2 separate regions of the Homo sapiens genome follow, and region 2 is linked to region 1. Evidence: fine-mapped expression QTL. A gene starts in region 1. The other region holds a variant in brackets. All regions are shown on one strand. Distances are between the middles of the regions.

Region 1 (8,260 bases):
TATGTTGGTCCTACTTTCTTTTAGTAAAGTTCTTGCAACAATACTATTCTTTTTTTTTTTGAGATGGAGTCTCACTCTGTCACCCAGGCTGGAGTGCAATGGCACGATCTTGGCTCACTGCAACCTCCACCTCCCGGATTCAAGCCATTCTCCTGCCTCAGGCTCCTGAGTAGCTGGGACTACAGGCAAGAGCCACCACACTCAGCTAATTTTTGTATTTTTGGTAGAAACGGGGTTTCAGCATGTTAGCCAGGCTGGTCTCCATCTCCTGACATCGTGATCCGCCCGCCTTGGCCTCCCAAAGTGCTGGGATTACAGGTGTGAGCCACTGCGCCTGGTCAACAATACTATTCTTAGTTGGGAATGAAAACAGTGTCATTAGCCATTATGTAGAAGAGGAAAAAATCCTGACACAGATTTTCTTGATTTGCCATATGTCTTGTCATAGAGTGATGCTCACTTATTCTTTCACTCAGTAAACATTCATGGAGTGTTTATATTGCACAAGGCTGGGAGTCTGACAATGAGGAATACAAGGCTGAATGGGAAACTTCAAGGCATTGATGACTTAGTAAGGGAGATTATAAACACATGAATAATTAAGTGGAATGCTTCAAGTCATAATCCAAGTATAGGAATACAAAGGTGGCATAGATTATTAATATTTTTGGTTGGAAGGAAATCATACCTATGTTCTAAACATAAACACAGACAATCATGTTTAGAATTTAGCTGTTACATAGACCAAAGTTGGACTTAGGTAAATATAAAAGGTTTACTTTTGACGACTTGGCAGTTTTTTTTTTTTTTTTTACAAAAATCCAAGACATTTCCCAAAATATAAACTTTTTTTTTTTTTTTTTCTTTTTTTTTTTGAGACGGTGTCTGGCTCTGTCGCCCAGGCTGGAGTGCAGTGACACAATCTTGGCTCACTGCAAGCTCCGCCTCCCGGATTCACACCATTCTCCTGCCTCAGCCTCCCGAGTAGCTGGGACTACAGGCGCCCGCCACCACGCCCAGCTAATTTTTTGTATTTTTAGTAGAGACGGGGTTTCACCGTGTTAGCCAGGATGGTCTCCATCACCTGACCTCGTGATCCGCCTGCCTCGGCCTCCCAAAGTGCTGGGATTACAGGCGTGAGCCACTGCGCCCGGCCCAAAATATAAACTTTAGTCTTTCCTTAAAGGTAAGTTTTTAATCTAAAATGCCAGGATTCATTTTAATGTATTAAGTAGTAGACATTTTACCATTCCTCAGATTTATCTGGCATTTTAGATATATTGTCACATAATTCTAACAAGACCAATTGTAATAAAACCAACTGGAAGACTGAAGAGAATGTGAGCAGGTGTGGCACCCACAAGATAGTCAATAATTCTTTTTTTGAGATGGAGTCTTGCTCTGTTGCCCAGGCTGGAGTGCAGTGCCGCAATCTCGGCCCACTGCAACCTCAGCCTCCCCGGTTCAAGCGATTCTCTTACCTCAGCCTCCCGAGTAGGTGGGACCATAGGTGTATGCCACCACGCCCAGCTACTTTTTGTATTTTTAGTAGAGACGGGGTTTCACTGTATTGGCCAGGATGGTCTCAATTTCCTGATCTCGTGATCCCATCCGCCTGCCTCAGCCTCCCAAAGTGCTGGGATTACAGGCGTGAGCCACTGTGCCAGGCCCTATTCTTAAATGTCTTCTTTGAAATTTAAAGAGACACGGCCCGGTGCGGTGGCTCACGCCTTTAATTCCAGCACTTTGAGAGGCCGAGGTGGGAGGATCACCTGAGGTCAGGAGTTAGAGGCCAGCCTGGACAACACAGAGAAACCCTTCCTCTACTAAAAATATAAAAATTGGCTGGGTTTGGTGGCAGACGCCTGCAATTCCAGCTATTCGGGGGGCTGAGGCACGAGAATCACTTGAACTCGGGAGGCGTTAAGTTGAAGTGAGCTGAGACTGTGCCACTGCACTCCAGCCTGGGCAACAGAGCAACTCTAGTCACCGCCCCCCCGCCGCCCCAAAAAAAAAAGAAATTTAAAGGGACATGAACTTCAATGAGAACGAGCATGATAACCAAAACCTTTATCCCAGATACTAATCTAATGCTGATTGATGCTTCACCCTTTAAAAGACGTGTTGTACTTTTCCCATTGGCTTAGAATTTGAACCAATAAGAAAGGAGGAAATCTTTATAAATATTCACAACCGAAGGCTGATACTGCGAATGTTGAGTGAAGATTGCTTTGTTCTTCATTCCAGTCTCACTTTCAGAACTTTATGGTGTTGATGTTCTTCTTATTGCCATAGTAAACAAACTTTAAAAACATTCAGCTTGGGTGTTGTCTTTGTGGCTTGAAATATATTTTCCAATGTTAAGAAGAGTTTATTTCTTATTGTTCTGACTTAAGATTTGATGAATCCTTAACAGATGTTCAAAGGAAAATAATTTAAATGCTAGTTTTTATTATCATGGTGAACATATTTCAAAAACAAAATATTAATTTCCTCGACATCTTTCAAGTTTATAATTACTAGGGTTCTTTCATTTCTAAAGTGGCATATATTACAGTTTTTAGTCTCTTATAATGGTTGTTTAGAGGCAGAGTTAATGTTAGCTTCTCAGCAACAGCTATTTATCTCTTGAGATTCTGGGTTATTACAATTTTTTGTTTTTGAAATTTAATAAAAGCATTAAGGGGTTTTTGTATAGTGATTTTTTTTTAAGGATGAACATGAAGTCTGTGATTTAACACTGGGACTCGAGACCTCTAAATACAAAATTCATACAAAAGGAAAAATTCCCCTATTTTTCTATATGGATGGTTTCATCAGAAAATTTATCTTCTTGAGTTCTCTCCTTATATATTACTAGTTTCTTGAAAAAGCACTACAACGTTCTCATTGTGAATAAGTGTTCCAGTTAGACCTAAACGACAAAAACCACTTGCACTTGCCCCAAATTTACACTCTGTTTAAAGCAACTGCCATAACAACCAACAATGTATCTTCGATGCAAAGGGACACTTTGTCATGAGGTTATTTCGCTTCTCTATTCTGGGAAAAACCACTGCAAGTGGAATGAAAAGTAACCGCAAAGGGAGGGGACGGAGGAAGTAAAAAACAGGCAAAACCACCACCACTACCATCACCACCACCACCACCAACCAGAAAGCAAAGGTGAAAAATTTGCGTACCCTGAAAACACTAAACATTTCACATCAGAACCCAGAACAAATAAACCAGGGAAAGCAGAGTTGAGAGAAAAAAAATGGTGCAGGCTTGGGGACGGACTCATACTACAGCGGTCGCAAGAGGGAAGAGCACGTCTTTGCTTTTTCTTGGCATCCGAAAACTCAAGCTCGAACTGGGGGCAAAGGCCAGCGGCTGCGGTTCCACCGGCTAAGGCGCACACATTCCCCGAGCTCAGACCGCACGCTGGCAGGGCCGATGGGGCTGGGCAGCCTCCCTCCACCCCGTGGCAGTCGCCTACCCCTTTGTCTCCCCGTGGGGCTCCGAGGCCGCGCGCCCGGAAGCCCCCCGCGGGAGGGCCGCGCGCGAGAAGGCGGGTTCCCGTGCCCGCCGCAGCGGCCACGGCCCTAGTCAGGCAATGCCGAGGCCGGTCGCTCGCCTCGCCGTCCCTCCCAACTTGCAGCCTGGACCCCGCGCGCGTCAGGGCTCGTCCCAGCTCTGCTTTCCTTTCTCCCCTCACCTCGCGAGGCCGACCTTGTGTTTGTTTTGTTTTTTGGGGCTCGGGAGAGTGCCGAGGGCTAGAAACAGCTGTGGTTTACCGCGCCGCTTATTTTGGCAAAAATTCCGGGCCTGTTGCAATGTTCCCCAGCGCCAAACAGCTCCCGCCTTCCCCCCAAGCAGAACCCGACACTCGAAGAAGGGCTTGCTCCTCCAGGGACCCCCTGATAAGAAAAGTGGGGACCACGGCCCGCTCTCGGGCGAGACTTGGGGGGTGGGCGACCGGAAGCAGCCGAACCGGCCGGGCAGGGCTTGCTCTCCAACGGGAGAGCGGGAGCGGGAGAGGTGGGAGCGCCCGCGGGCTCAAGTCCCCCGGGCCGCCGCGCCGAGGCGGAGCTCGGGGACGAAGCAGAGGTCGTGGCGGACAGCCGGCGGGCTTGGGGGGGGGCGGTGGGCGGCGATCCACCTGGGCGACGTGGCAGCCATTGCCGGCGCCTCGAGACCCCTCCCCACCCGGCCGCCCACCCGCCCTCTCGCGGCGGGCTTCTGCGCGGCTGCTCTTCCCCGGCCGGACGGAGAGCGGCAGTGTCTCCCCGCCGGGCGCGCTCGCCGTGTCTCCCCCGCGGCCGCAGCTGCTTGCTAGCCTTGCGCGGCGCGGGAGAGCGCAGTGGCGCCGGCGGGAAAGGGCTGCGGACCTGCGGCGCCGCGTTGTGCGTTCGACGACGCGGCACCGGCTTCGACGCCCTCTGCCCGCTCCAGAAGCAGGTAAAGGCGGCGGGTGGGAGGCAGGGAGGCGGGTCCAAGGTGAGGGCCCTGGAGGTTAGGGGTCCCGGGGCTCCGAGCCGAAGCGGAGGGCCTGAAGCAGCGGCGGGCGGCGCGGCGAATGAACCCCCAAGCCCTGAATGTGGGGCCCGGCGCGGGCCGCCTCCGATCTGACCCGCGGGCCCGGCTGCCCGGACGGAAGGGAAGTGAGGCGTCGGCGAGAGGCGGGCCCTGGCGCTCAGCCCGAGGCCGGGCGAAGGCGGGGGCCGCGGCCGCTTCCTTGGCCTCCGAGTGCCTGGCGGGCCTCCAGGCCCCAGACACACCCCTCTCGACCCCCCGAGGTTTCCTCCCAGATCTGTTCCCGCCGGGACCTGACCTTGCGCCCCTCCAGGCGCCTTAGGTGTTTGCCAGGCGGAGCCTTCTGGGAACTTCAGGCCACCTTCCTGAGCACATAGTCCTAGCAGAGCCGTTTATTTACTCAGTTCAAGTCCAGACACACAGCCACTCACACGTTCGGATTTTGGAGACTGCGGGGAGACTTTCCCCTCCCCGGCATTTGTGTGTCTTTGGCCCTCGTCCCGCCTCCCCTGCCCCCATCTGCAACTTTGTCCCTCAATGGGACCCTTCTAGAGCCCCTCTCTCATCGGGACTCTCTCTAAGCCGTCCGTTTGGAAATTCATCCTCAATAGAGTGAGTCATCTTAGCGGGGGCACAGTTTATCTCTCATGCGCTTTTGGTTAAAATAGTTTTTTTTTTCCCTCCGAAAGAGAGCTAGAGTAATAGAATGTAGATGACAGGTCAGTGTCAGTGTTGGCTTCAAAGGCTCTTCCTTTCGGCGGCAGTCTTTGTAACTAGGATCTGATATTTGTGGCACGGACAGGTTTGTACACATTCTCGCCATGCAGTGGTTGTAATGTCTCCATGGCACAGTTCTGGCTTGAAGGCAGGATTGGCTGCTTTTTCTACTCGACATCTTTGAGCCAATCAGCAAGGGCTGCTTGCCTGGAGACTGGTTAACTCAGTAAAGGTGGCCATTGGTTGAGCTCCTAGAAGAAAATCCTGGAGATGAACCTAGCCTCTCAGAAAACAATGACTGATTTGCAGCTGTATTAAAAAAATGTTTTCTTTTAATCCCAACATCAGCCTTTTCACTCCGTTTTTATTACTTCCAGTGTTTTTCTTTCAAACACCAGCTGTCTTTTGTAACTCGTTTTAACTCTCATCCTTTAATTTTAACTAAAAGACGCGCTTTAGGAAATGTAAACATCGTGTGTTCTGTGTTTTGATAAACGTGGTTCCATCTGCCTTTCTAACATTGTTTACTGCTAAAGGTCAGAAATAAACAGTTTTGAGTTTCGCTGCCAGGACCTTTTATTATTTAAGTGCCGTGCTAGGATGGGGGGTAGGAGCGAGGGGCTGTAGTGGTGGACATGGTGGGAAGAATAGGAAATAAATGGCTGCTCTTTTGCAAGGAGGCTACAATTTAGTTAATGAAAAAAGACTAACCTGTAAAACAATAAAGAATAAAGCAGTTGAAATCAGCACGCAGTACGTACGAATGCCAGTTTGTGTACTTGTTGACTTTAGTTAATTTGAAGGGGAGATAGAAGTACTGTATTTCATAGAAAAAGTGGGCTTAAGTTATGGTAGAGGCATGTTTTTTCCTTCATTAAAGTATATTAAAGTAGGCATAGTATCTTGTATGTACACAGTAGAAGCTAAATATTATCACTAGTTGCATGTTTTTTTTTTAGTATTTATTTTAAATCTAAATACTGTTACATAGTTGCATCTTATTTATTTATTTTTTTGAGACAAGGTCTGGCCGTATCGCCAAGGCTGGAGTGCAGTGGCACTATCTCAGCTCACTGCAACGTCTGCCTCCTGGGCTCAAGCCATCCTCCCACCTCGTCCCCTAGAGTAGCTGGGACTAGAGGCGAAAGCCACTACGCCCGGCTAATTTTTGTATTTTTTGTAGAGAGGAGGTTTCGCCATGTTGCCCAGGCTGGTCTCAAACCCCTGAGCTCAAGCAATCCAACTGCCTCCGCCTCCCAAAGTGCTGGGATTACAGGAGTGACCACCACGCCCGCCCGGCCGTTTTAAAACGCTGATTATTTTCCTTTTAAAATCTCCCTTTTCATCATGATTAGCCATGATTATGCATGTTTTTTGATATGCAAAGCAGCAACCATTTATTAGTTAATGAATTTCAGAAAAATAGCTATCTACCTTCTTTGCTTTCCTTTCAGCTTTTTATATGCAAAATCATATTGTAAGTCTTGGGAAGAATCAGTTGTCTATTAAATGCCTTTAGAAGTAGTTTATGTTAGGAATTTAAGAAGAGATTGAGCATTTTTTATGTATGTATGTATGTATGTATTTTGAGACAGAGCCTCACTCTGTCGCCCAGGCTGGAGTGCAGTGGCGCTATCTTGTCTCAGCCTCTGGAGTAGCTGGGATTACAGGTGCTCAACACCACACCTGGCTAACTTCTGTATTTTTAGTAGGGATGGGTTTTTGTCATGTTGGTGAGGCTGGTCTGTAACTCCTGGCCTCAAGTGATCCGCCCGCTTTGGCCTCCCAAAGTGCTAGGATTACAGACATGAGCCACCCCGCCTGGCCTTAGATTGAACACTTTTTTGATACCTACCTTGCCTGATAATGAGTAAGCATACATCAAGCCATGTATCATTATCAACCTCATTGCCCTCGTCCTCATAGTAATGAAGTGGCTTATGTGTATGTACACACACATGCACACCAGGTGCTGTTTTAAGCACTTTGCATATGTGATTGTATTTAATTCTTACAACTCTGAGATTTGCACTATTCTTACAGGGGAGGAGACAGAGACTGAGAAGTATTAAGAAAGTTGCTGAAAGTTACCCGACTAGTGTGTGGGAGTGTTATGTATGTATCAGGTAGGTTTCAGTCAAACTTAGATCTTTGTGACCCAAAACCTTATTCTTTTTTTTTTTTCTTTTTTTAAAGAGACAGGGTCTCACTATGTTGCTCAGGCTGCTCTCGAACTCCTGAGCTCAAGCAGTCCTCCTGCCTCAGCCTCTCAAGGCGCTGAGATTACAGGCGTGAGCCACTGTGCCTGCGCCTTGGGAAGAGTATTTTACTTTCTTACCTATCTCAGCATTGCCCTCCAGAAATTATTTTATTAGAACTGTACATCTAGATTGTGGTTAATCAATTCTATCTGAGCTCTCATACTTCATTTATTTTTTTTGAGATGGAGTCTCACTGTGTTGCCCAGGCTGGAGTGTGATGGTGCCATCTTGGCTCACTGCAACCTCTGCCTCCCAGGTTCAAGCAATTCTCCTGCCTCAGCCTCCCAAGTAGCTAGGATTACAGGTGCACACGATCACGCCCGGCTAATGTTTTTATTTTGAGTAGTGATGGGGTTACACCTTGTTGGTCAGGCTGGTCGTGAACTCCTGACCTCAGGTGATCCACCCACCTTGCCCTCCCAAAGTGCTGGGATTACAGGCATGAGCCACTGTGCCCGGCCGCACATACTTTAAAAATTAAAAGAGGCTTTAATAAATTTATGTGGCTAAGTAGCTAGATTTTTTTTTTTTTTTTTTGAGACAGGGTCTCCCTCTGTTGTCCAGGTTGGAGTGCAGTGGCATGATTATAGCTCACTGTAGCCTTGAATTCTTGGGCTCAAGGGATCCTCTTGCAACAGCCTCCCGAGTAGCTGGGAGTATAGGCACATACCGCTGTGCCTGGCTCATTTTTAAAATTTTTTTGTAGAGACAGGGTCTCGCTGTGTTGCTTAGGCTGGTCACAAACTTGTGGGCTCAAGCAGTCTTCT
Region 2 (8,402 bases), 56 kb before region 1:
TCACCATGTTGGCCAGGATGGTCTCAATCTGTTGATCTCATGATCCGCCTGCCTCAGCCTCCCAAAGTGCTGGTATTACAGGCGTGAGCCACCGCGCCTGGCCAGAATCAAAGTATTTTACCCCAAAACATGTTTCTTTGGCGTATTTTAAAATGGCCCTGCAAAGCTGTTCTTTGTGGGGGAAATTTGCATCTGTAAAGGATCTCTATTAACGTAGCTATATCTTTTTCCTCCAGACACTCCCAATGCTAAAGAGATTAACTACGATCTGAACAGAAAACATTTGTCATCTATTGTCTCTAAGGGGAGTCACTATAAGACTTCCAAAGAACTTTGGTCTCCACAATCTTTATCTTACCCTGAACATTCCCTTTCTATCAATCTCAAATCTTTAGTCAAACTCGACCAATTGTTAACCAGAAAATGTTCAAATTCACCTATAGCCTGTAAGCGCCCCCTCCCACCCCTTTGAGTTGTCCCCCGTTTCTGGACCATAGCAATGTATTTCTTTTTCTTTCTTTCTTTCCTTTTTTTTTTTTTTGGACACAGAGTCTCCTTCTGTCCCCCAGGCTAGAGTGCAGTGAACTCACTGCAACCTCTGCCTCCTGGATTCAAGGGATTCCCCTGCCTCAGCCTCCTGCGCAGCTGGGACTACAGGTGTGTGCCACCACGCCTGGCTAATTGAGACTATCTTTTCATTCTCTATATGGAAAATAATATTATAAAATTGTTGCCCTATGAGAAGATGACCAAAGATCACCAAATTTTTGGAAAATGAGAAGATGGAAACATGGATTCTTTCATTTGACTGTTGGCTTAATCCATAAATATTTATTAGTTGCCCACTATATTTTCTTTTTTTTCTTTTCTTTTTTTTTTTTTTTTTTTTTTTGATATGGAATCTTGTTCTGTTGTCCAGGCTGGAGTGCCATGGCAATGTCTCAGCTCATTGCAACCTCTGCCTCTCAGGCTCAAGAGATTCTCCTGCCTCAGCCTGCCAAGTAGCTGGGATTACAGGTGCCCGCCACCACGCCCGGCTAGTTTTTTTTTTTGAGATGGAGTCTTGCTCTGTCGCCCAGGTTAGAGTGCAGTGGCACAATCTTGGCTCACTGCAACCTCCACTTCCTGGGTTCAAGCAATTCTCCTGCCTCAGCCTCCTGAGTAGCTGGGATTACAGGCCCCCACCACCACACCTGGCTAATTTTTGTATTTTTAGTAGAGATGGGGTTTCACAGTCTTGGCCAGGCTGGTCTCGAACTCCTGACATCAGGTGATCCACCTGCCTTGGCCTCCCAAAGTGGTGGGATTACAGGCTTGAGCCACTGTGCCCGGCCGCCCACTATACTTTCAAAAATGCTGACAGAGGTTGGGAGTAGAACACTAAATAGATGTAAATAGTCCTGCACATCAAGGAATTCACAGTCTAAGGTGGAATAGGCCCCTAACAAGTAAACTTACCAATTATTACTTATTTATAATTAGTATAATTATGACAAAAAATAAGTGCAAGAGAGCTAACCAGAAAGATTCCTTGAAAAACAGGATGTCTAAATTGGGGTAGTAATCCAGATTAAAAGGGGAAGAAAGAATAACCTATTTTGGGGGAATAGCAGAACAAAAGGCTCTGAGGTAGGAAAGTACTTGTTAACTTCAAAGAACAAAAAAATAAAAAAATAAAAAAAAAGGCCGGGCACAGTGGCTCACGCCTGTAATCCCAGCACTTTGGGAGGCCGAGGCAGGCAGATCACGAGGTCAGGAGATCGAGACCATCCTGGCTAATACGGTGAAACCCCGTCTCTACTAAAAATACAAAAAAAAAAAAAATTAGCTGGGCGTGGTGGCGGGCGCCTGTAGTCCCAGCTACTCAGGAGGCTGAGGCAGGAGAATGGCGTGAACCCGGGAGGCGGAGCTTGCAGTGAGCCGATATCGCGCCACTGCATTCCAGCCTGGGAGACAGAACGAGGCTCTGTTTCAAAAAAAAAAAAAAAAAAAAAAAAAAAAAAAAAGCTAGCGTAGCTACTGTGAAAATAAATTTAAAATCTAGCATGTTGGAACTGTAAATTATTTTGAGCCTTAAAGGAGAGAGATTATAAGGCCTGAATCATGTGACAGGCAGCTGTTACCTAGGCAACTAGAAACTTTGTTTCTCTGATTATAGATTATTCTTATTCCTTATCTACATTGTTTTTAAAATACTGCAAAGGACTAAAAGGGCCAGGGCAGACCTCTTCCCTCTTCACAGTTAATCTTCATTATAGATTAACTTCCCTCTTACTTTTCTCACACAAAGACTTCATGGCTATCACATCCTCTTAAGATGGAATGTTAAGTACATTCTTTTAAATTGGAAAGGTAATGAAAACTAGCACAAAGAAAAGAAAACAGGCTGGGAGTGGTGGCTCATGCCTGTAATCCCAACACTTTGGGAGGCCAGGGTGGGCGGATCACTTGAGGCCAAGAGTTCCAGACTAGCCTGGCCAATACGGTGAAACTCCGTCTCTACTGAAAATACAAATATTTGCTGGGTGTGGTGGCAGACCACCTGTGGTCCCAGCTACTTGGGAGGTTAAGGCAGGAGAATTGCTTGAACCTGGGAAACAGAGGTTGGAGTGAGCCAAGTTTGCACCAGTGCATTCCAGCCTGGGCAACAGAGTGAGACTTTGTCTAAAGAAAAAAAAAAAAAGAAAAGCGGCCGGGCGCAGTGGCTCACGCCTGTAATCCCAGCACTTTGGGAGGCCGAGGCAGGCGGATCACGAGGTCAGGAGATCGAGACCATCTTGGCTAACATGGTGAAACCCCGTTTCTACTAAAAATACAAAAAATTAGCCAGGCGCGGTGGCAGGCGCCTGTAGTCCTAGCTACTCAGGAGACTGAGACAGGAGAATGGCTTGAACCCGGGAGGCGGAGCTTGCAGGGAGTCGAGATCGCGCCACTGCACTCCAGCCGCCTGGGCGACGAAGCGAGACTCCGTCTCAAAAAAAAAAAAAAAAAAAAGAAAAGCAAGAAAAAAGAAAACAAGCCATATGGGAAAAAAAGTAAACTATAACTAATTAAATTGTTGTAATTCATAAACCAGGCTAGTATATAAAATGTTATAATCCTACTAAACTTGTTTTCTTCTGTCTTTGTAAGAAGGAATTTAAAGGCAGGGTGCAGTGGCTCATGCTTGTAATCTCAGTACTTTGGGAGGCCAAGGCAGGAGGATCTTGTGGGCCTGGGAGTTTGACACCAGCCTGGGCAATATAGTAAGATCTCATCTCTTAAAAAAAATTAAAAACTGGCCAGGCGCGGTGGCTCACGCCTGTAATCCCAGCACTTTGGGAGGCTGAGGCAGGAGGATCACGTGAGATCAGGAGTTTGAGACCAGCCTGGCCAACATGGGAAAACCCCATCTCTACTAAAAATACAAAAAATTAGTGGGGCATGGCAGCAGGCGCCTGTAATCCCAGCTACTTGGGAGGCTGAGGCAGGAGAATCACTTGAACGCGGGGGTGGAGTTTTCGGTGAGCCAAAATCGTGCCACTGCACTCCAGCTTGGGCGACAGAGCAAGACTCTGTCTCAAAAAATAAAATAAGGCCGTGCGCAGTGGCTCATGTCTGTAATCCCAGCACTTTGGGAGGCCGAGGCAGGTGGATCATCTGAAGTCAGGAGTTCGAGACCAGCCTGGCCAACATGGTGAAACCCCGTCTTAACCAGGTGTGTTGGAGCGTGCCTGTAATCCCAGCTGAGGCTGGGGCAGGAGAATCGCTTGAAGCCGGGAGGCGGCGGTTGCAGTGAGCAAAGATTGCACCATTGCACTCTAGCCTCAGCAACAGGGCGAGATGTTGTCTCCAAAAAAAATAAATAAATAAAATTAAAATTAAAGAAAAA[TAGAA/T]AGAAAGAAACTTAACTTTTAACTTTAGAACACTGACCCCATTTTCCTGTAGCCTTTGTCTCCCAAGTGGCTATTTCCAATTTTTTGCTCGAATAAAGTCTTTAAGGTGGATTCTGATCCTTTTGATTATTTCAGGTTGACACTAGTGTGCCATGAGCAATGGGAAAGTGGTGAATGAATCCAACAAGTTAATTTTGCCTGTTCTGAAACTTCATACTGTCATCCTTCAGTATCTGCTGGGGATTGGTTCCCAGAGCTGCATGGACACGAAATATCCTCGCATGCTCAACTTCCTTATATAAGAGGCCTAGTATTTGCATATACTAGATGTACCTCCTCCCATATCCTTTTTTCTGTTTTTTTTTTTTTTTTTTTTTTGGAGACGGAGTCTCACTTGGTCCCCAGGGTGGAGTGCAGTGGCGCAAAATCGACTCACTGCAACCTCCACCTCCTGAGTTCAAGGAATTCTCCTGTCTCAGCCTCCTGAGTAACTGGGATTACAGGCACCCGCCACTACACCCAGCTAATTTTTGTATTTAGTAGAGGTGGTGTTTTGCTATATTAGCCAGGCTGGTCTCTAACTCCTGACCTCAAGTGATCCATGTGCCTTGGCCTCCCAAAGTGCTGGGATTACAGGAATGAGCTACCATGCCTGGCCCCTGTCATAGATTTTAAATCAAATTTAGGTTACTTATAATAACAAATACAATGCAAATACTATTTAAATAGTTGCTATACTGTATTGAGTTTTATTTGTATTTTTTAAAATTGTTTTTCTAAACAATCTTTTTTTTGCCTTGCTATTGAGCTGTATTTTTTTTTTAATTTTCCTTTAAATACAATATTTAGGCCTGGCATGGTGGCTCACGCCTGTCATCCCAGCACTTTGGGAGTTCGAGGCAGGTAGATCACTTGAGGTCACGAGTTGGACACTGGCTTGGGCAACATGGCAAAACCCTGTCTCAACTAACAATACAAAAATTAGCCGGATGTGGTGGTGCACGCCTGTAATCCCAGCTACTCAGGAGACTGAGGCACCAGAATCTCTTGAATCCCAGAGGCAGAGGTTGTGTTGAGCCAAGACGGCACCACTGCACTCCAGCAGGCCATCAGAGGGAGACTGGGCGACAGAAGGAGACCCTCTCTAAATAAATAAATGAAGATTACACATTTTTTTTTTTTTTGAGATGGAGTCTCGCTCTGTCCCCCAGGCTGGAGTGCAGTGGCATGATATCAGCTCACTACAACCTCCGCCTCCCGGGTTCAAGCAATTCTCCTGCCTCAGCCTCCCGAGTAGCTGGGACTACAGGCACGTGCCACCACTCCCGGCTAATTTTTTGTATTTTTAGTAGAGACAGGGTTTCACTGTGTTAGCCAGGATGGTCTCGATCTCCTGACCCCGTGATCCGCCCACCTCAGCCTCCCAAAGTGCTGGGATTACAGGTGTGAGCCAAAGCACCAGGCCAGATTAAAGATTTTTTAAAATTTAAATGTACATTTATTTATTTATTTTATTTTTTTTTGAGACGGAGTCTGGCTCTGTCGCCCAGGCTGGAGTGCAGTGGCGTGATCTCGACTCATTGCAAGCTCCGCCTCCCAGGTTCACGCCATTCTCCTGCCTCAGCCTCCCCAGTAGCTGGGACTACAGGAGCCCGCCGCCACGCCCAGCTAAGTTTTTGTATTTTTAGTAGAGACGGGGTTTCACTGTGTTAGCCAGGATGGTCTCAATCTCCTGACCTCGTGATCCACCCGCCTAGGCCTCCCAAAGTGCTGGGATTACAGGTGTGAGCCACTGCGCCTGGCCTTTACGTTTACATTTAAACTTTAACTTTAATTTTTTGAGACAGGGTCTTGCTCTGTCACCCAGGCTGGAGTGCAGTGGTGTGATCACGGCTCTGTGCAGCCTCAACTTCCCAGGCTCCAGTGATCTTACCACCTCAGCCTCCCCAGTAGCTGGGACCACAGGCTCAGGCCACCACGACTGGCTACTTTTTGTATTTTTTGTAGAGATGGGTTTTCACCATGTTGCCCAGGCTGGTCTCAAAACTCCTGGGGTCAAGCAATCCACATGCTTCAGCCTCCCAAAATGCTGGGGTTACAGGCCTGAGCCACCATGCCCAACTGCTTTGTTTTTATTTCCTGAATTTTTTTTTTTTTGAGACGGAGTCTCGCTCTTGTTGCTCAGGCTGGAGTGCTATGGCATGATTTGAGCTCACTGCAGCCTCTGCCTCCTGGGTCCAAGCGATTCTGCTGCCTCAGCCTCCCAAGTACCTGGGATTACAGGCATGCGCCACCACGCCTGGCTAATTTTGTATTTTTAGTACAGACGGGTTTTCTCCACATTGGTCAGGCTGGTCTGAAACTCCTGACCTCAGGTGATCTGCCTGCCTAGGCCTCCCAAAGTTCTGGGATTACAGGCATGAGCCACCTCACCTGGCCTGAATATTTTGTATTTGTGGTTGGTTGAATCCATGAATGACGAACCTATGGATAAGGAGAGCCGACAGGATAAGTGAAATTTAAAGAGTATACAACATATATGCTTGTGTGTAAGGCTTTTAAAACTTAGAATAATGTGGGCCGGGCCTGGTGGCTTAGGCCTGTAATCCTAGCACTGTGGGAGGCCGATTTACGGGGATCACCTGAGGTCAGGAATTCGAGACCAGCCTGGCCAACATGGTGAAACCCCATCTCTACTAAAAATTACAAAAAAATTATCTGGGTGTGGTGGTGTGCGTCCGTAATCCCAGCTACTTGGGAGGCTGAGGCAGGAGAATTACTTGAACCTGGGAGATGGAGGTTGCAGTGAGCTGAGATCACACCATTGCACTCCAGCCTGGGCGACAGGGCAAGACTCTGTCTCAAAAAAAACAAAAACAAAAACTTAGCATAATGTTTTCAGATTTCATCCATGCTGTTGTATTTGTAAGCATTTGTTCCTGAGCATTATTTTATTGTAAGGATATACCACGATCTATTTATCTATTCACGGGTTGATGGACATTTGGGTTATTTCCAGATTTTGGCCATTGTGAATAGAGCTGCAATGAACATTCTTGTATAAGAGATGTGAGATTTTTAGTCCACTGTTTTCCCCACCTCACTGCAGAGTAAAAGCAAGAATATACTCTTTGTTATACAGCAATTTTAATAAAAGAGCTAGGAATAGTTTAATACCTATCTGATCCTTTCATTGACCTCATGAAAGCACTTGGGTTCTAGCAACTGCAGGTAAAAAGAGCTGGGTCAAGTAATTCAGCACGGCCATAGCATCACCCTGGCCTGAGTCCATATCACCAAAATTTGATATATGAATCACACTTTGAGATGGAAGGTGTCCAGATACCAAAGGGTCCTTGTTGATGCTTGGAGGTGGGGAATTGATCTTGTCTATACCCTCAAGTTTAATAAAGAATTCCTAACTGCAGAAGAGATTCTTTATCTGCTGCCAAATAGTCTTAATCCTACTTCCTCTTTCCTACTTCCCCCACAGGACTGACCTCAAGCAAAGATCTGTAACTCTAGCCTTACTGTGCAAGCCCATGGCACTTTTAGTATATCTGCATGTTCAGCAGAAGCTAGATATGTCCCTGCTTTGCAACAACTGGTAATGGTGAGTCGGCTGTGTAAGGTCAAGTGCTACTCCCATATGCATGGAATGCTTTCTGATGATCACAACTGTAGTCACTTTAAATTGAATTACAACACTGTACAAATATGATAGTATTAAGAATATCAGTCTTCAGTGAATTTTTCATATTTCTCTCTCTATATAAACAAAGACAGTATTTTTAAACTTTTTTTTTTAGACAAGGTCTTGTTCCATTGCCTAGGCTAGAGTGCAGTGGCGTGATCACAGCTCACTACAGCCACCACCTCCCAGGCCCAAGCAATCCTCACACCTCAGCCTCCCAAGTAGCTGGGACCACAGGTGCACACCACCACGTCCAGCTAATTTTTTTTTTTTTTTTTGAGACCGAGTCTCGCGCTGTCAGCAGGCTGGAGTGCAACCTCTGCCTCCCGGGTTCAATCGATTATGCTGCCTCAGCCTCCTGAGTAGCTGGGAACAGGTGTGCGCCACCACGCCCAGCTAATTTTTGTATTTTTAGTAGAGATGGGGTTTCACCATGTTGGCCAGGATGGTCTCGATCTCTTGACCTCGTGATCCACCCAGCCCATTTTTTTTCTTTTTTTTTTTTTGAGACAGAGTTTCACTCTTGTTGCCCAGGCTGGAGTGCAGTGGCATGATCTCAGCTCACTGCAACCTCCGCCTCCCGGGTTCAAACGATTCTCCGGCCTCAGCCTCCCGCATAGCTGGGATTACAGGTGCCCGCCACCATACCCGGCTAATTTTTGTATTTTTAATAGAGACCGGGTTTCGCCATATTGGGCAGGCTAGTCTAGAACTCCTCACCTCAGGTGATCCACACACCTCGGTCTCCCAAAGTGCTGGGATTACAGGCCTGAGCCACCGCACCTGGCCACATCCAGTTAATTTTTACATTGTTTTTGTAGAAATGGGAACTC

What was found. PIP is the estimated chance that this variant, and not a neighbour inherited with it, causes the effect.
Region 2: its variant is fine-mapped to the expression of N4BP2 in whole blood (INTERVAL, PIP above 0.99).

What each region holds. Positions count from the first base shown.
Region 1 is chr4:40,052,591-40,060,850 of GRCh38, forward strand. N4BP2 (NEDD4 binding protein 2) reads left to right here and starts at 4,260. Exons shown (of 18, transcript NM_018177.6): 1 at 4,260-4,440. It also overlaps the pseudogene LOC344967. RefSeq lists silencers at 3,472-3,681, 4,022-4,481, 4,532-4,881 and enhancers at 5,072-5,121, 5,222-5,321.
Region 2 is chr4:39,996,753-40,005,154 of GRCh38, forward strand. No RefSeq gene overlaps it. Among named protein-coding and RNA genes, the nearest start is that of PDS5A, 23 kb to the left of the region's middle. RefSeq lists enhancers at 2,083-2,587, 3,225-3,738, 3,739-4,254, 4,255-4,768. The variant TAGAA/T (reference allele first, on the strand shown) is at 3,872.